Linked DNA regions of Homo sapiens. The protein of the gene in region 3 interacts with the protein of the main gene of each other region in a biochemical or structural test. Each region holds a gene or a part of one and is shown on either strand. Other genes may lie near its edges.

Region 1 (7,000 bases), on a different chromosome or scaffold from region 3:
TGCCTAACCAAAGTCAAGAACCACTGAATCGGGGGATTCATTGCATGTCTGTGGTAGAGGAATGCTGCTCATTTGTTTATAGATGTGGCAGTCTTGAATGCAGGTGACATTTTCATACCAGGGTGTAATACCGCAGAGGAGGGGAGAGGCTGGATCTTCCCTGATGTACCTCCTGGACTTTTGGAGTGTGATTACAATGCCAATCCAGCCACTTCCTCTGAGCATGCTTGGGACGACTGTTAGACCTGCTGTGTTGAGTTAGAATGCACTTGACCTGCTCAGGCCGTGAAATCTATGAGGAAGGGGAGTGAGATGGATGTAGCTCATGAGCCAGATTGCAGGTGTATCCAAGTTGCATGTATATCCTGAAAAAATCCTGGCTCTCACGAGGCTCAGCCTGAACACAGTTTTGCATTCAAAGAAACAATGTCCATTAACCAAGTATAATAAAGAAATAAATCCCAGTATTTACTTGCATCTTTTGAAAGAACATTAAAGGGAATCCAGCTCATAACCCCAGCAGCACTTCTTCAGTCCTTCTTCCCCTTTTCTTTGGCGCCTGGCATCTCTCACTGCATAGCAAAGCTTTCCCCCTTGATTCCCGGTCCTCACACGCAGGCTCAAGGCTCTGTTTCCCATCTTCTTTCTTCTGTCCCCCTTCCTTTTCTCTTCCAAGCAAATCTAAGTCTTTTCCAGTGACTGTCCCTCTCTATGCTCCCCCGACACCCAGTTATCCTAATTTGCGGAATAAGGCCAAGGTGTGGGGCCTGGGGGCAGAATGGGAGAGTCTCCCCTAGTGAGCAGGGAGGGGAGTATGTTCTGCACCAGGCCACTATGTCTGATGGCCCTGCTGGCAAACCTGAGTCTTTCAGAAAGTCTTGTTTAAATGCGTCAGCACTCCCCAGCTGTGATGCTGGAGTTTAAGGCGGAGCAGGGGAGAATTCTGGGTTTACAGCTGGCTGGAGTTCCAGTGAGACCAGCTCCATGGGTGGCCATACTTTATGGAAGTCCCCAAGGGCAAGAGGAATTTTGGAGGAAGTGAGTCAGGGCTGAAAGGTCCAGCCTCTCCTCCATTAACAAGCTTGGTGGAAAGGGGGTGTCCTTTTATTAAAGGAGACAGTAGAGGTTTCTTAGAGAAGGCAGCTCGAGTAAGTTTAGGACAAAGGACATTTCCCTGGCCCCGGGACAATGGAAGGCTCTAAAAACGAGGTTCTAGTGGCTGCCATAAATGACCCTGCTGTAACGATGGGAGGGGTGGCCTAAAGAGACAGTACTGTGGCTCTCCAGGGAGCTCTCCTCTTGGAAGAGCAGATCTGAAGGCGGGAAGACTGGTTCTAAGGCCGAGGACATTGCCCCGAGCTTTGTGGAGGCACTCAGGAACACAAAGGGGCATTTCCAGTTGGGTTTGGAGCAGGAAGAAGAACGAAAAAGAGAAAGTCCTGTGTGCCATGTCAGTGGGTGGCAGCATGGACTCAGCCTCAGCTATTGGCACCAAGGATCTGAACCAGGGAGGACCCAGAAGGGGAGCCCAGCCCCTCCACCAGCTTGTGGGAGAGCGCTGCTGCCCAGTGAAGCCTGGAGAGAGGAAACAACTGGATTCTCCCAAAGCGGGAGAAGGTGGAGTCTCCAGCCACCCAGCTACAAGCTAGGAAGACGCCTTGTAGAAGGCTCCTTACAGGGAGGAAACCGAGTTGGAAAGGCGAGACAGCAGTGTGGGCTCACCCGGAGCAAGACGTGTGAAATCAGCTTTTGACAGCGTGGCTGAATGAGGATCTGGAGATGCGAGGCGCTGGGCAGACTCTCTGACTAGATCCCTGGATATGAAGAGGCAAAGCCAGCTCTAGATGGATTCATAGTGAGTGTCTGCTTCTGACAATAACTGGCAGAAAGCTGATGAGCCTGGAGCAGGGCTGTGAAATGCAAATCCAGTGAAATCCAGCCACTCCTACAAAAACCCACCACATCTTAGGTTACTTGTGGGTGGAAACGCTTTTTCTCTCAGTTGAAGCTTGGTTGGAAGCAGATGTTTCACTTGGGCATTGGAAGGGTCTGGGGAAATGTGCTGCCTCCTAGGCCAGGGACATTAGCCAGAGGCCAGAATTAACTGAGGCTTTAGCACCAGGTGACACCAACTTCATTGAGAAGCCAGCGGCAGTCCATAAAGAGGAAAAACCCAAGGCCTGCCCTGGACTCTGTCCCAGCCATGCTCCCAATTGGCCCTGTGATCCTGTCCATGTCTCTTCCTTGCTGGTCTCTGGCTAACGTCCACAGGTGGCATTCATGGGAGGTTCCAAGTTGGTCATCAAAGACTAAACATCTGGGCTTGGCAGCTGAGCAGATGATAAGCAATTAACTCTGTATTACCATCAGAGGCTCCACCTCCCTCTGTAGTCCCAGTCCCTTGGGAAAATCTCAGAGCTGGAGCCCTTCCCTCATCCTCTGGCTCCCCACCCCATGGCTTCTCGAACAGTGTTCCCACCAGGACCTTGGGACAGGAGAGAACGCCTCACCTGAAGGACTCCCAAAACTCAGGTTTCTCTAAGCTGCTGGGGCAGATGCCAAGAGCCTCCACTGCTCTCTCACTGCCAAGGACCTGGGTGTCCACCTAGATGTGGCCTTCAGGAGGCCAAGCAGTCCTTCCCCTCGCCTTTGTGTAGGACACTGGCACCTCGGCTGACTTCGGGGACAAGAAAAGGCAGGCTCCCGACCCCTTCCAAAGAATCATCTGGGGTTCAAGATGAGGCTTCTTTCTCCCGTCCCAAGTTTTGGTGTTTCTTCTGAGTCTGCTCAGAAAGATGAAATTAGGAGCAGACATCTCAGGTCCTGCCTGCCATAGCAGATGGCTCCTTCCCTGAGCCTCCATAAGCAGCACAGCACACTCATGCACACACCCACTGGCATTTTCTCTCACACTTTCATACACTTGTGTCAACGCAGGTTCACAGCTCACACTTAACTGTGCATGCACACACAGATTTAGCACTTGGATTCATTCCCACACATGCACGTTCACAACCTGTGTGTGTCACCCTTCCTCCCCTACTCATGAGGGTGTATGCCCTGGTTCATACATGTAACCCTCACATGTGACACACCCAGTTCACACCCATTCATGCACACATACCTTCTCTTGTGCACACGTCCCCTTTCCCAGTGGTACACCCTCCTTCATGTGCACGCAGATGCTCCCAGCTATACCAGCTTGCTAGTGTTCTGCACAGGTGCTTGCCTTGGCCCTCTGAATCCCTGACGCTTGGTTTTTCTGTGTTGCAGTCCTCCCGAGAGCTGGATGACAGCAGCAGTGAGTCCAGTGACCTCCAGCTGGAAGGCCCCAGCACCCTCAGGGTCCTGGACGAGAACCTTGCTGACCCCCAAGCAGAAGACAGACCTCTGGTTTTCTTTGACCTCAAGATTGACAATGAAAGTGGGTTCTCCTGGGGCTACCCCCACCCCTTTCTAATTTAGTCTCTGAGTCCCAAAAAGAAGTGCAGGCAGAGCCATCTGCCAGGCCCAGGAGAGCTCTGAGCTCTGGCCAACAACTGCAGCCAGGCTGGGCAGAGCACTCCGGCTCACCTGGGCTCCTGGCGTGTCATTTGCTGGCTTGAATAAAGATGTCCGCCTTATCCAGTGCCTGAGTGTGCGAGAGAGGCAGATGCCTCCACAAGTGCACCTCTGACCAGTTCTTCTCTCAGACAGAGAGCCTGGGGAACACACTCCTAGACAGAAACACAATGCGTGAGCTCATTGCCGTGAGCCCTGTCATCCAAGTAAGGCCTCTGGCTGTGCTACACGTTTCTGAGTAGAGGGCCAATCCCACAGGTGGCTGCACAGGGCTGCCCACAGATCCAAGGTCACAGAGGGATCAGACCCCTTATCCTGGAAGCCCCTCTACTTCCTCCAGTGCTTGCCCTGGCTCTGCAAATGCCCCTCCTTGAGCCAGAGCCCCAGGCCCTACCCTGTGGCATGGACTCAACATTGGGGCTAGCCCAGCCAGACAGAAACAGCAAGTGTTTTCATGGTACAGAAAAGTCATTTGCAGACCTCAGTGGGAGGCTCTTGGCCTTGCTCTGAGTGGAGTGCTTTCTATGTCCCAGGGCTCTGACTGGGCTGGGGTCCTTGAGGGGATTGGAGGAAGGAGCATGGGATGGAGAGCTAAGTTCAAGCAGCCTGGGATCTCTAGTATAGGTGGCTGAGGCTGATAGAAGACAGGAGGGACCTGTATCCATGGGGTTTGGCCAACTCTGGGGCCGGTAGTGGAGGAGGGGAGAGCTGGATCCCCAGCTGGTGAACAAAGTGTTTGGAGGGCAGCCGAGCCTCCCCTTCTGACTGCTATCCCACCACAACCAGGATCAGAGCTGCATTTGGGGGCTGATGTGTGGCTACTGCCAGCAGACCCCAAGGTGAGGTCTCTAGATGGTGAGTCAGCAGCCCTAGAGGACCCCCTGCTCCCACCCCAGAGCTCTCTGTGACCCTGGGTCCTCACCCTGCCCTTCTCTCCTGCCCAGCCCAGAAGATTAGCCAGCTGGCTGCGGTGAACCGGGAAAGCAAGTTCCGCGTGGTCATCCAGCCTGAAGCCTTCTTCAGCATCTACTCCAAGGCCGTGTCCCTGGAGGTGGGGCTGCAGCACTTCCTCAGCTTTCTGAGCTCCATGCGCCGCCCTATCTTGGCCTGCTACAAGCTGTGGGGGCCTGGCCTCCCAAACTTCTTCCGGGCCCTGGAGGACATTAACAGGCTGTGGGAATTCCAGGAGGCCATCTCGGGCTTCCTGGCTGCCCTGCCTCTCATCCGGGAGCGTGTGCCCGGGGCCAGCAGCTTCAAACTCAAGAACCTGGCCCAGACCTACCTGGCGAGAAACATGAGCGAGCGCAGCGCCATGGCTGCCGTGCTGGCCATGCGTGACCTGTGCCGCCTCCTCGAGGTCTCCCCGGGCCCCCAGCTGGCCCAGCATGTCTACCCCTTCAGTAGCCTGCAGTGCTTTGCCTCCCTGCAGCCCCTGGTGCAGGCAGCTGTGCTGCCCCGGGCTGAGGCCCGCCTCCTGGCCCTACACAACGTGAGCTTCATGGAGCTGCTGAGTGCACACCGCCGTGACCGGCAGGGGGGCCTGAAGAAGTACAGCCGCTATCTAAGCCTGCAGACCACCACGTTGCCCCCTGCCCAGCCTGCTTTCAACCTGCAGGCTCTGGGCACCTACTTTGAAGGCCTGTTGGAGGGTCCGGCGCTGGCACGGGCAGAAGGAGTCTCCACCCCACTTGCTGGCCGTGGCTTGGCAGAGAGGGCCTCCCAGCAGAGCTGAGAGGAGGGGGTGACCAGCTTGGAGTCTCTGGTGGGCAGAGAGGGATGGGGTCCCTGAGCCAGGCCCCACCCATCACAGCATTCCCAGGTCCTGGTACCCAGCCCTCAGTTGTCATTTGGTTCAGAATCAGTTCCCTTTCTCTGGGACCAAATTTCCCTTCTCTAAACATCCTACAGAGAAGGTTCCAAAGCTGAGCACCCATCACCCTAGGTGTGCACCAGACTCCTATTAGCCCCTCCTTCCAGGAGCTAGAACCAGGGAGGTCCTGAGTGAGGAAGGCATGACCTCTGGGCTCTCTAGGTGGCCCTGGTCTTGCCCCATCCATCCCACCTGCCACTACCTTGGGTGTCCTTACAGCTCTGCCCTGACCCCAGCCCCTGCCCCTGGACACCTGCTGACAGCTCCCACACAGAACAGTCTGAGGTGATGCTGGCTACAGCCCTGGCAGCCCATGGCAACTCAAAGTGCCTTCCAAACCAAACTGCCCCTCATGAGGTTAGGGTCCCCCACCCTCCACCTGCCCAGAGGCCAACTCTGTTCCCTTCTCCTTTCATCCCAGAGGGGCCTCATCAGCAAAGACAGAAACTGATGTTCCATGCATGTCCCTGCTTCCAAAGCCTGACCTTCCAAAGCTTGCTTCCTTCCTCCTGGCTGCACAGACACCTCTGCTTGGCCACAGCTTTGCTCTTTGGTCCTCAGGCCACCAGACCCCTCACAGCATGGCCCTTGGCTCTTCCTGCACTGCCCTCACCCTCAGCCGTCCCAAGGAGTGCCCAGCACTACTCAGCATGTAGTCCAGGACCTGCGGCATCAGCATCCCCTGGGAGCTTCTTAGAAATGCAGACCTGTGGGCTCTACCACAGGCCTCTGGAATCAGAATCTTCAGGGTGGGGCCCAGCAGTCTGTGTTTTAACAGGTTCTCCCGGTGATGCTGGTGCATGCTCAAGTTTGAGAACCGCTGCTCTCATAGACTGCTCCTCCAAGGGGAAGCAGTGTGGAACAGCAGAGAAAGTCCCGTCCCTATCTCTGACTGTGCAGTGAGTGTGGCCTAGGAACAGGTCCCTTCCTAAGCTCTAGTGTCCCCATCTGTAAAATGGGCTGATTGGCCTCCACGGTCAGAGCGGCCATCTGGCTGTGCCATCCTGCATTTTTAGGAATGGAAAGCAGGCCTCTGAGGCAGTGGACAGGAAGACTTCTCATCCTTGAATTCTAGCTCCCATTCCAAACTGTTAGTCCCCAACCTTGTGGTCACATCAGAGGTCAACAGCAGAACAGAGGCAGGTCAGGGTTGTCCGCTCTGATTAGCAGAACGACAGCCCCTTCCTCCTCCTCCCTCCTTCCCATCCCTACTCATTAGCTCCCTGCTCCTGGGATGCTTCCCAAGCAGCCCAGGCCTCTAGCCTCCATGGCTGATGACCTCAGCTTTCACACTGGTGAAGTCTGTGTACCCATACTGCAGCCCCATCCCATGGGGCCCCTGAAGACCCACTGAGGAATTCCGTAGGGTCTTGTTCCCACGACCGGAGTGCTGGCTCTCACAGTGAATTTTGATGCATTTAAAATAAGATTCTGATGCCAGACTGTTAAAACAGGCGCTGGTTCTGAAGCACCGATGGAAACAGATTGATGCAGATGGAAGGAGGAAGGGAGACTGGGCCCACTGATTTCCAGCCCCACCATGTGTGCTGTTTTCAGATGTGATTGAGG
Region 2 (7,460 bases), on a different chromosome or scaffold from region 3:
GAATGAATACGTGTATTTTGATAAGTTTTAGATATTAATTTGTGTGGTATTTTCTCAGAGGATGTGCTTTTGAAAAAAAAGTGTAACTTTATTAATAATCTCTTAACAGTTCATCTTGTGACCATTAATTGCATATTAAATTCTTCTATGTTGCTTCGAATCATGTCCCCAAAGCCAGAATTCTGTTTAATAACTATGTCTTTGTTGTTATGTAGCACAAGTATTGCTGCACAGCTATTTCCCCATTTTTGTCACTTTCTGAGATTTCATAGACTCAAATTATACCACACTTTAGAGTTGAGAAATAAAACCACAAAATATACTACAATAAACAGAAGAAAGTTTTAAAAGATAATGTTAAGATATGCTAAGGAGTTATTCAGTGCTGTTCTTTATAAAAGAAGTTTAAATAAAGTATTTATTAGAAAGATACGTTTGCAGTGTTATGGAATTTATTGATTCCGTTAAGTTAGGGCCAAGGAAAAAATTTCAGGTATCTTTTCCCCCAAATTTTTCAAAATGAACATGTTTACAAAGAAGAAAAGAGGCAAAGTGCCTCTTGTTATCTAAGTTTCATGGAGTTATCTAGTATTAATGTGCTTCTCTCTTGAAAAGTTAATATCTGTGATTGCACACTTTTAAAATATGAATAGCTCAGAAAAGGTGGAAAACTGTTTTTATTATAAATTGCTCATTTGTTATTGAAATAAAAAACAAATTAACATTTAATAAAACTTACACTTTAATATTATCTTTCAATATATTCCACATGCACAGCAATCAGGACGTAAATGGTGCAATTAATGAATGAAGTAAAATGCTGCCTTTCCTAAGAAGTCTGAAAAAAAGTCAAACATTCGAATGCTGTGTGAATTATATTAATAAAAATAGTAGGTTTTTATAAAATTTAGTAAAATTTGAAGTAAAGGTAACAGCCACCTACTGTCTCTTTGACGGGAGAACCAAATTTTAAGCAAATGTTATGTTTAAAGACTGTTTTGATGAAAACTTTTAGAATTGAGTTAGTAGCAGAATACATAGCTAAATGTACTTTTCTACAAATAGAATGAGATATTTGATTTAAAATATTTCTTTCCTCTTGAAATAGGATGTTAGATAGGGACATCTCATTTTACCTATCAAGTTCTGAGTCTTGCTTTAGAACTACTTCTTTTAACTTAATTTCATGCATACACTGGAAGACAATAATATGGCTTTTTAACTGCATTATCTTTAGTTGAAACTGATGGAGAAACAAAAATACTGCTTATACCATATTGGTACATGCTGAATGTTTTTAAAGACTAGCCAAAACTGACATTTTTTAAAATTAAATAAGATGTTTTAGTTTCAAATTAGAGATTGTTGATCTATTTAAAGCTAAAATTGGTATGCAATACGAGGTTAAACGGGGTTCACAGGTGGTCACATTTCCATGTCCTACCAAGTCTCTAGGGATTGGAGTTATTATACTCCACATAAACATCTTTACTCTGCAACCACAATTCCATTGCAAGGTGCCAGTGAAAGTAGGCTAGTCGCTTTTTTTTTTTTTGGACTGGTATAATGAGGTGGCTGGAGTTTCCTTTATAGCACTTAGAAATTATATGCAGTCCCCAAGCATTTCATAAGACAGTTACTATTAGAGTTAGTTTCAGATTCACAATAGTAAAACGCACTTTGTGTCAAAGCAATTCTCCACTGAGGACCGGTTAAGGAACTGGCAGAGAGCCCAATTCTACTTAGTCTACTGTCAGCATTTACATATAAAGTATTTTATACAAAAGACACGCATTCCTAAAATGTGACAAAAAAAGGCTCTCCCCAAAGAATGATAACTACTGGACTTAGAATAGTCAGAAGTGATTCAGATATAAAATTTCCTTTAAAAAGCAATAGCCATGTTCAGGGAAGGAAGGTAACATTAGCATTAAATTTAAATACTTCCACAATATTTAATAATAAAATAAACAATGTGCCACATCTATATATACTTCCTTTGTGACAAACTTTATCATCGAGTTTGGTAACTTTCATTCCAAGTCCAAAGAGAAGGCAATTTAAGTGACTTAACCTTGCTTGCTTTTAAACAGCTATGTATTTGACTTGACCTGAACAGCAATCCATATGCTGAAATCGAACGTGAATTGTGAAATGTGTAGACTACTATGGCAGGGATATTACTTTTTGTCCACACCAATTAAGAAGCCCTCTGTCAAGCCGGCACTTTGGTGAGGGAAGGAAATGCACAAAGGTATACTCTGACAGACAGCCATGCTTTAGGTCAAACTAATCCCAAGAATTAGTGGCTCAGAAGCATAACCCAGGGCAAATCAGTGTCTTTGGGGGGACTCATGGGAGCATCTTTCCACAGTGAACTAACTGCTAAATCTTAAGGCGTCTACTTCAAGGTCACAGAACATGCTGTGAAATATTAAAATCCACCAGGCTCCACACGCTCCACCATATCAAACATGCTAATGACGTGAACTAACTTCATGAAACTTTAAATACACTGGTGTGACAGGAACGAGTCAGGAGTGATTTCAATAGCTGATGGCAAACGGATACGACTATCTAAAAAGTTACTTTTAGCAACAAACAAGGAAATCATGGAATCTAACGAAAAAGAATGCACAACGAGCCTCAACTTCAGCCTTCAAAAAAGGCACAGGGATAGATAGACACAGTGCCGTGGAATATATTGATGCAGATTTTAGAGACAATACCCGGGTTTTCTATTTCCTCGAGAAATATCAGGGGTACTTACATGAAGGAAGACCCGATCAGATTAGTCCTTGGGATATTTTCCTTTCTTAAGAGAGAGAGAGAGAGAAAAAAAAAATAACAACAATAATCTTTACTTCGTCCAGCGTTGAAGTGCTTCTCCACCTGATTCAAACATGCAGCCACGGCGACCCACACAGAACCTTCAAAGTCAATCCAATAGCAGCCCGAAGATGTCTGGGTGTACGCGTGTGCTCAAGTGTCTGTGACTGCGAGCAGAGCGAGCAGAGAGCTGGAGACGATGTGTGCGTGTGTGCGCGCGCGCGAGGGGAGCGCGCGCGAGGGGGGGGGCGCGGGGCCGCGCATTCGCGCGCGCCGAGGCCGCTCGGAAGAGGAGGAGGAGGAGGAAGAAGGAGGAGGAAGAGAAGGAGGAGGAGGAGGAGGAGGAGAAAGTGGCTCTCAGCGGCCGGTCGGATTAAAAGTAACCAGACTCGTCCAGAAAACTGCGTCCAGGAAGGAAGTGACAGAAGACGAATGGGAAAAGGAGAACAGCTCACAGCGTTTGAAACATCGCGTAAAAAAGACTGGGGGTGGTGGGGGCGGGGGGGATTGAAGGATACTGGGAGGGGAGGCGGGGGTGGTAGGGAAGACGGAGCACGAATGGTTGGGGTTCTAAGCAGCACGTCCGATGAAATGTCTTTTGCCTCCTTTTTTCCCCCTTTATTTAATTTTGTCCTTGCCTTTGCTTCGCGCTGCCTTTTTCTCTCCGTCTCTCTCTCCCCCACAATCCCAAACCGTTGACTCTTTCCTCGCGAGCTGGAGAAATCATCAGTTTCACTCTTGCAAAAGGGGGGCGGGACTAGACCTCGGAGCATTTTAATAAAACAAACATACAGCAGCTCCCTCCTCACCCCTCCAGTCTCAACTAGATTGATAAATTACTCCACTACACTACTTTAATTATGTATATGGTATGCAGAATAAATCACTGAACATCAGTACCTCAATCAAGCACTTTTAAATGATAATTGCATCTTGGTGAATCAATCTTTCCATTCCTGACATTTTGCTAATTTTAGTTTTACGGTGGGGTAATAGCACATGCCATACGCAAACCTAATGACAATTCTTTATTGCACGAAATGAAGACAACACGGCGAGCTGCGGCTCCCTGCTCCTCTCGCGGCGCCTCTGCGGAGGACGCTCGGAGAGAACCTAGTCTCCCGCTGCGGCGCGCTCGCTTGCTCTCCGGGGACGCTGCGAGCCAGCCAGCAGGAAAGTCCTTCTAAAGTCGGGATCTTTCCTCTGACCAATAGGAGCGCGACCCTAATAGTTGCTCTTGTGACTTTTCCCCCTTTTGGACACGCGTTAGCCACTTCTCTCTTCCACCGGTCGGTGCGCTCCTCCGTTACTCACGCGTAAAAACCACGGTCCAGGATGTCTGCAGCACTCGATTCCAGCGTGCTTTTCCTGCACGCCCAGAAGTCGCGGTTTTCACCCTGAGAGGTTGGAGCGCTAGAAAGCGAGCCGAAAGGTTTCTCTAATGTTAGTAATGTACGAAATAATAAAATAATTACCAGTATTTGAGATCTCGACTTCATCGCGGGGCCATGAACTTTCTAATCAGTTTGGAAATATTTACCGAGGAAGCAGCTTCCTCGGAGTTCCCCCCCTCCCCCCACTCTATCTTTTCCACACCTTACTGGACTTCATCCAGGTCATTAACATGTAAACCAAACCAACTTCCCAAATGCATTAGGCTACCCTAGCCGATAGCTGATGACTTCACTTATCCTGAAGAGTTTCAGCTGCACAGGAAGCAGAAATAGAGACTGATAAGGGAGGATACTTATGTTAAGGTTAAAGCATGATAAACACTTTTCCTTACAAAAAAAAAAAAAAAAGGCTTTAATATTTAGGCTACTAGAGATTGGGCACCTCCCGCCCTAACCAACTGTTAATATATACCATGCCCAATAAAGCCAAAGATAAAATACATCAACTAGTATAGAATCATGAAAAGACAAGATTGCATGCCAGTAGAATTATAGATTACATAAAATGTTTAAACCAAACTATTTTTTAAAAAATATTGTGAAAGCAAGAAGGGAAAATTAATAGAACATGGAATATATGAGATTAGACAATAGTATATTGAAATATCTAGCTAACTAAAGATTTCCTCACTTTAGAAAATTCCTTTTAGCACTACGTTTAACCCAATGACTAGTTGTATTTCCTGTTAAGTTCAGCAATATGCCTCCAGATGACTATTTTAATATATGAGGACAGTATGGTTCAAAAAGCCTCCTGCTTCAATGTAGGAGGTATTTGATGTGAGTAGCTTCTCTCAGAAGAGTGGCCTCAACATTTAGGCAACTGTCCCAAGGCTTCACTTGAAAGGGGAAGGTTTATTTTATAGGCAAGTACAACTAGATCTGAACAATCTTCAAGTTCCAGCTCATCATTGTGACTATCAGCAAAACTAAGACCATTCCCTCCCTTTTATTATAGGAATGCATCACAAACTGTCACAAAGCAAAAACCATCTGAAATAGTAGTATTTCTTGCAGATTAGTATTTACAATGTATTTTGTTTGCCGGTTTTTCAAATGTTGAGTTTGCCATTACCATGAATTCATTTTAATAATATGGCAGAGAACATCTGTATCAGGTTTCCATTCAAAGTACAACTTCTCTGAAAATCCAAAAATTTAAAGGGCAAAGATATTTCGAATACTAAGATATGTCTATATATGGTGGTAAAAATAAAATTAATTTTCTTCAAGATTCACGAAGGTCCTGAAAAAGCAAAGCATTTGAAGGACCATCTAAGTTTATTGCCATAATACCTAAAATTAATGCAGTGAGTTACAACAGTCTATTTGACATGAGCAAACACATAGCCAATACATGAATTTCAGCCCTGCTGTTTTTAATGAATTATAGAGGGTATTTCTGTTTACCACAGTACACTTCAGTTTTAGATGTTCTTTCAAAAAGAAATTATTTTATTTTACCTTTTCATATTTTAAATAATTATTTAATAATACCCATTATAACAAACCCATAATTATTAATGATACTGCAAGCATTCAAAAATAAGTATAACCCCACACTGGATAATTTGAAAATAATTTGGATCTGGAATGTATCACAGTTGGCCTTTTAAAATACAGGATTTTCCCCTCAGCAGATTTAGCTTCTTAATTATGTGTGACCTAAGTTAATATTACCATTAGTTTTCTTCCCATGAGCCTTTACAGTTGAAGCAGAAGAGATATGAAGAAATATACATTAGAAAATCACCTGAGATTTAAAATTATTCATGAGTAATCCACAAAGTAGTTAATCCAGAGTGTGCTTTGTATTCTTTAAATACTTCTGGACTTTTGGTTTCTGTTTCTGTTTTTGTTTTTTCTTTAAAATCATCCTGATCCTTGCCATCTAATGATACTTGGTTAGGATCAGACTATTTTCTCATGTAGGGAGGAGCTTGTACTAGGTGTCAGGAGACCTGGATTCTCTATCTAGTTCAAAATTTGTGCCTTACTAAGGGATTTGTCCTTTCTAGGCTTCAGTTCGCTTATGTGTTAAATGAGTTCTGTAACCTATTCCAGTTCTATCATTGGAAAACAGAAAATGTTTCTACCCTTTAAACCAATTGGAAGGTAGGGTCTATCCAGTTAAATAATAGGTGACAATTCCTTTAAAAGAAAATTATGTCTGGGATTGATGTACTACTGTACCAGCTTTTATTTTTTTCTAATCACCAAATATTTCTCCTACATTAAGTTGTAAATGCTTTATTGTTAATGTAAATATAGAGTCACTTGTTTTTCCCTCAAAAGAATTATGTTTAGCAATATATTTAATTAAAGTGTCATAGAAGTTACAGAGAGCATGCTCCTCGGGATTTTAACTCCAGGGAAAGCTAATATTGCAATTTCTGTTCAGAGCTGCATACCATCTTACTCCAACCTCCTCTCTTCACTACTTCCCTACATTAAAGCAGCGGTCCACTAAAGCCCTGTGCACTGGGTCTGCCTGCTTTTAAGCCTGGCCCACGCTGGGTGTAGCTCTTGAAGTGAGCTTTAAAAATTATTTTAAAGTGAACTGGGGCGGTTGCCACAGCAACCCACCCTGAGATGAAGAAAGGCTATAGATTAATGTACCCCTTAAGATTATTCAACTGTATAGTATTTGTTCCTCAGCCAGAATACTTTTAACACAAACATGATAAGTGAACATGGTGGTTTAGAAAAATCTAAAAAGCAGTGAAACACAAATTCCAATAGCATTACATATTTTAATCTTTGTCTAATTATAGTATTGATGATACACAGGACTTCCCATGAAATAGATTAATTTTATAAGATACAGTACTTGCAAAAGTAGGCCCTGAAAGATGACATGATCTTTAAGCAAAATGATATGTCATTGCTTATAATATAAAGTGTATGGTGGTCATTTAACTCTTTATTATTGTTATACACGTCTATTCTGTAAATACCTAAGGCCAAGGAGTTTGGCAGTTTTACCTTTATGGTAACTCTGTGGTAAATGATAAAAACAAATGTGAGCACTCACCACATACACTTCTTTACTGCCACAATCATTTGCCTTCCGTTCTTTACTTCATCTCTTCATAGAAGTTACTTCACAGTTTGCAACTCTTCTTTGGCACCTTCAAATGTGGAAGTGCAAAACAGTATATAGTATTTTGTTAATGC
Region 3 (4,837 bases):
GCAGTGCAGTGTGAACAGGGCCCATGGTGTATTCTAGGCCACAGCCCAGCACTCCTCTGGGCTGCTCTCAAACCATGTCCCATCTTCAGCATCCCTCCCACCAACTTACTCCCCTGTGGTGAGTACCGTGGAACCCCAGCCCACCTCACTATCATACTCAGCTTCCCCTGATGGCCCATCCCAGCCCCTGAAGCTCTATGCCAAGAACACAGCTACCGCACACCACCCTGAAACAGCCACAGCCAAGGTAGGCATGCATATGAGGTCTTCCCCATACCCTCTGGGTGTTGAGAGGTTTAGCCACATGAGGGAGCAGAGGACAATCTCTGCAGGGCTGGGAGTGGGTAGGGACTGAAGGTCTCAATAAACCTTCAGAACCTGAATGAACTGGCTTCATACACACAAACATATTTGTTTATCCCCCAAATGTAGGCACCTGGCTCCTCCTTGCTCCCCTGCTGATGGTGTCCTACCCCGAACTCCAAAAATTACACCTGGAGTCAGGTGCAGAAGGGAACCTTGTATTTCACAGGCCTCATTTTGATGGCAAAAAGACAGTGTAATAATAACATAATAATAATAAAAATATAATACTGAAAAGGATTGTTCAGGGGGAGTTGGGGTCTCCCGATCCTGCCATGGCTCGGTGGTGGCTCAGGTGGCTGCTTAAGGCTGAAAGGTGGGTCTGAGATGAACCTGCAGAATAATCCAAGCCGAGCCTCACCTGCTGGGTCCAGGGCTAAAGCCTTTGAGAATGCTCCCATGGATCCTGGAACTAGGTCTACTGTGGCAGCAAGGCACAGGCTGGGGGCCTCAGGGGTCCTGGAGGTCAGGCAGGTCAGCCAGCAGCATTGGGGAGTCCATCTGGATCTCACGCTGCAGGGACTCAATATCGGCAGGGTTCATGCCATGGCCTTCGAGCCAGTCAGCAAGCAGGGAGGCTGAGAGAGAGGCTGAATCTGCCTGGCTGCAGGGGAAGGAAAGGGAGGGGTGCTATTAGCCTAGGCTGGACCCTCACCCATCCCACAGGTGCATGTCTCCTGCACCAGGAACCTCTCCCCACAGTCCCAGTCTAGGAGCTCAGTCCAGCCACCTTACCCATCCTGTGGCCCATCAGCCACGCCCATGTCGAAAGACTGGTTTAAGAATTCCTCCAGGTCAAAGCCAACACCGTAGCCAGCCCCACTGCCCTTTGGTGTGCCTGAGAACACAGGGGGCAGGGGGTCCTCCACCTGCAGGGAATGACAGGTTACAATGCAGACAGACTGAGGTCTGTAGGCCACCCTGTCCCAATGCTGCTGACTACTCCGCCTGGATATCTGGGAGTGCTAACACCAGTCTCGGCAGTCAGTGAGTGCTGGCTGGCCCCATCTCTGGGCTAGGCACTTTGCAGGCCATATTTAACTTGTCTCCTAACAACCTCTTCATTGCCATTATGCTCCTTCTGTGAGCAAGAGGACACGTTCAGAGATAAAGCCCCATCTGCTGCTCAGTTTTTGTGGAACACTGACCGCTTCCTGAACCCATTTTCCTTTGGCCCAGACCCAGGTGTCCCCATGGCCTGGGCCTCCCTCTCACCTGTGACTTAGATAGCTGCTGGGTCACAAGGTTGACATCAGGTGACTCTGACATGGAAGACTGAGGGGCTCCCCCGGCGTCTGGGGGCGGCAGGCCAGGTGGGAAGTAAGGCAAAACTCCTGGGGTGCTGGAGCCAGGCAGCCCAGGGGGTGGCACAAGTGACTGGGCAGCCAGGAGGCTGGTGGAGGTGGCAATCTGGGGTGGCGCGGGGACAGGGATGGGCCCAGGAGGGCCAGTGGGGTGGGGTGCAGGGCCAGGGGGTGGGCAGGCAGGCTGGGGTACAGGGCCAGAGGTAGAGCCCGCAGATTGTGGTTGCGGGCCAGTGGGCTGGGCTACAGGGCCAGGAGGAGGACTGGTAGGTTGGACTGGGGTTGGGGTTGGCGTTGGCGCTGGGGCAGGGGCCGGCACAGAGGTGAGGGCTGGGGCTGCGGGCCGGGCCATTCGAGTCCAGCGTTCCAACAGGCTTCTGTCATTGTCACTGAGCACTAGTCCAGCCAAGGGGTCAGTGGAGGGGCCCCCAGAGGCCCCAGCCCCCCGTTCCTTTCGCTCCCGCTCCTGCCGCCGTTTCTCCCGCTCCTTGGCTCGTTCTTGCCGCCTCCGCCGCTTCTCCTCCCGCTCCCGCTGGCGCTCCTGGGCTGTCACCGGCTTCCGAGGCTCAGGAGCCTCCAGGGGTGCGCTGGGGCCATCTGCGGGGAAGTTGGGCAGGGGAGAAGGTAAAAGCCTGAAGCCTTGTCCAAGTCCAAGTCTCCCCTCTGCCCACCCGACCTGCCCACAAGGCACCTCTGAGCCGGCTCCTCAAAGACTTGAGCAGGGCAGCTTTAAGGGCAGCCTTAGTATTGTCTGAGATGGCACCATCTTTCTTTGGTGGGGCAGGCTCACTGACTGGTGGAGGTGGCTGCAGGGTCAGATCAATGGTGTCAGGTGCAGGGCCGGGGCATGGTGGCGGGGCTGGTGGTGGAGACTCCATGGCACAGTCCCCACTGGGAGCCCAGGGACTGGGCATTTCAACATCTGGACAGCCAGGCTCACTAGCCACAGGCTGTAGAGAAGGCTGGAAGCGGATCTGTTGGCGGATGCCCTCACGCCTTGCATGGAAGTCCTCAATTTCAGCCACAATGGCCTCCTTAATGCGCTCCCGAGTGAGGGCTTCGCGGTCAAAGGCAAAGTCAAAGGGCGGGGCACAGTCAGGCTCATCATCAGGATCATGGTACTTGGCCAGGAAAGGGTGGCGAAGGGCAGCAGCTGCTGAGATGCGAGCGCTGGGCTCAAAACGCAGCATGCGACCCAGCAGTGATAGGGCCTGGCGGTCGGCACCTGGGTACACTGTCTCCCAGGGCACAGGCTGGCGTGGTGGCAAGCTCTGGATATAGGCCCGCACCCTCTCAGCCCCCACAGCCTGAATCACGGCTGGTGATGGGGTACCCAGCACCATCATGATGAGCTGTAGCTGGTGTACATAGTTTTTGCCTGGGAAGAGCTGGCGCCGGGCCAGCATCTCACCAAAGATGCAGCCCACAGACCAGAGGTCAATAGCCTGTGTATACTCATGCAAAGAGAGCATGAGCTCGGGCGCACGGTACCAGCGCGTGGCCACATACTCAGTCATGAAGTACTGATGTTCAGCGGGCGAGGTGCACAGGCCACGAGCCATACCAAAGTCACCAATCTTGAGCTCACAGTTCTCATTCACCAATAGGTTGGAGGGCTTCAGGTCACGGTGGATGACCTGAGCCGAGTGCATGTACTTCAGGCCCCGCAGCAGTTGGTACAGGAAGTAGCGCACGTGTTCCAGTGTGAGGGGCTGTGAGGAGTGGATGATCTGGTGCAGGTCGCTTTCCATCAGGTCCAGGACCACGTAGCTGGAAGGGGAAGGAAGGAGAGAAGCATGGGTTGGCCTGATCACACTCCAGGGACAAGCCCCATCCTCACCACACCCTTCCGATTCCAGACAGGTAACAGCCTTACCCTGGGACCCCATAGGGGCTGACGGCATGGTATGGAAGAAGAGCATCACGTTTTAGATTCTCTACGACTTTTCCATGAACTTGGTTAAATCACTTTTGTCTCCAGACCTAGTTTCCCCATCAGATAAAAGATGGGGTTGGACTACACCAGGGCTGGCCAATAGGTTTCCTTTTGGGGCTATCTCCATTGTTTGGTAGTGGCAGCTTGAAGAACTATGATGAAAATTGACCAGGCTTGTCCACTGTCTGTAGGAAAGTGTTCTGTGATTGATTAGTGAAGTCTGCTATGGGAATAGGAGGGTGTGGTCATAGTAGGAATGTCCTACATTTGACATCCTATATACTAAGATTCTATAAAACTGTAAAATCATCTGTACACTTCTTGAGGAATAACAGTTGTCCCTGGCAAAACTCTAAAGAACTGGTCCTAGAACTGCGGGAATTTTCCCAGCCTGCTTCAGATTAGATTCAGCTGCCTTTCCAGAACTTCGGCAACATGGTTGCAGCCTTCAGAAAAGTCCCAAGTCTGGCTCCCTCTCCCATCCCGCTTCTTACACAGATTTGAATTCGCCATAGGGCACGGTGGGCCTCAGGATGTCCTTGATGGCGATGATGTTGTCGTGTTTAAAGTGCTTGAGGATCTTCAGCTCCCTGAGGGTCCGCTTGGCATTGGTCACCACATCGAAAGCATTAGGGATCTTCTTGATGGCCACCTGCTGGCCTGAGGAGCAGGGAAAAGGGACATACCAGAGGATACCTTGGAGAAACTGCAGAGTCGACTCAGCCCCTATCAACACCTCCCTTCTAGGATGCAAATGACAACAGCTACCAAGTATTGGGTACCTACTATGTGCCAAGCCCTGTGCTAAGCATGTTACCTACATTATTAAATGTTACCTTCACAACTCCCCTGCGGGGCAGGTCCCAATAGGTCAACGTTAAAGAGAAGGAAATATGGCTTAGTAACTTGTTGGAGGTTGCACGGATGCCCAGTGGTGTAGCTCAGCCTCTTATGCCTACACCCTCTCCATCTCAGACCTCACCCATCCCACCACCAGTTCCTTATGCCAGTGTCTGGCTCCAGAACACATTTCTCTCTTAGACACGAAGGACTGGCTCTCCATTCTGGTCTAACTGGGACTATCATTTTCCTAAGGAGGAAGTAGGCAGGCAGGATGGCAAAACCACCAGGCCGGAGTTTCAGAGAACCGAGCCTCCCCGGAGCCTGGCAGGCAGAAGGCCCTGGTCAGTGTGTGTTGACTGGAGCCAGAACTCGCACCCCGCTTTCCTTCCCG

Evidence for each region.
Region 1: the proteins of MAPK7 (region 3) and PML form a complex in vitro, tested with the Homo sapiens proteins (2 studies listed by BioGRID and IntAct, with this or other methods).
Region 2: the proteins of MAPK7 (region 3) and MEF2C form a complex in vitro, tested with the Homo sapiens proteins (one study listed by BioGRID).

Annotation. Positions count from the first base shown.
Region 1 is NC_000015.10:74,039,716-74,046,715, forward strand, and holds part of PML (protein PML), read left to right. Parts: intron 1-3,273; coding exon 3,274-3,424; coding exon of another isoform or gene 3,425-3,465; exon of another isoform or gene 3,466-3,623; intron 3,624-4,505; coding exon 4,506-5,293; 3' UTR 5,294-7,000.
Region 2 is NC_000005.10:88,880,185-88,887,644, forward strand, and holds the start of MEF2C (myocyte-specific enhancer factor 2C), read right to left. Parts: upstream 3,001-7,460; 5' UTR 2,771-3,000; intron 839-2,770; exon of another isoform or gene 740-838; intron 1-739. UniProt on the Homo sapiens protein: Transcription activator which binds specifically to the MEF2 element present in the regulatory regions of many muscle-specific genes. Controls cardiac morphogenesis and myogenesis, and is also involved in vascular development.
Region 3 is NC_000017.11:19,379,208-19,384,044, reverse strand, and holds the end of MAPK7 (mitogen-activated protein kinase 7), read right to left. Parts: intron 4,264-4,837; coding exon 4,098-4,263; intron 3,562-4,097; coding exon of another isoform or gene 3,544-3,561; intron 3,438-3,543; coding exon 2,359-3,437; intron 2,265-2,358; coding exon 1,579-2,264; intron 1,233-1,578; coding exon 1,099-1,232; coding exon of another isoform or gene 1,095-1,098; intron 968-1,094; coding exon 814-967; 3' UTR 501-813; downstream 1-500. UniProt on the Homo sapiens protein: Plays a role in various cellular processes such as proliferation, differentiation and cell survival. The upstream activator of MAPK7 is the MAPK kinase MAP2K5.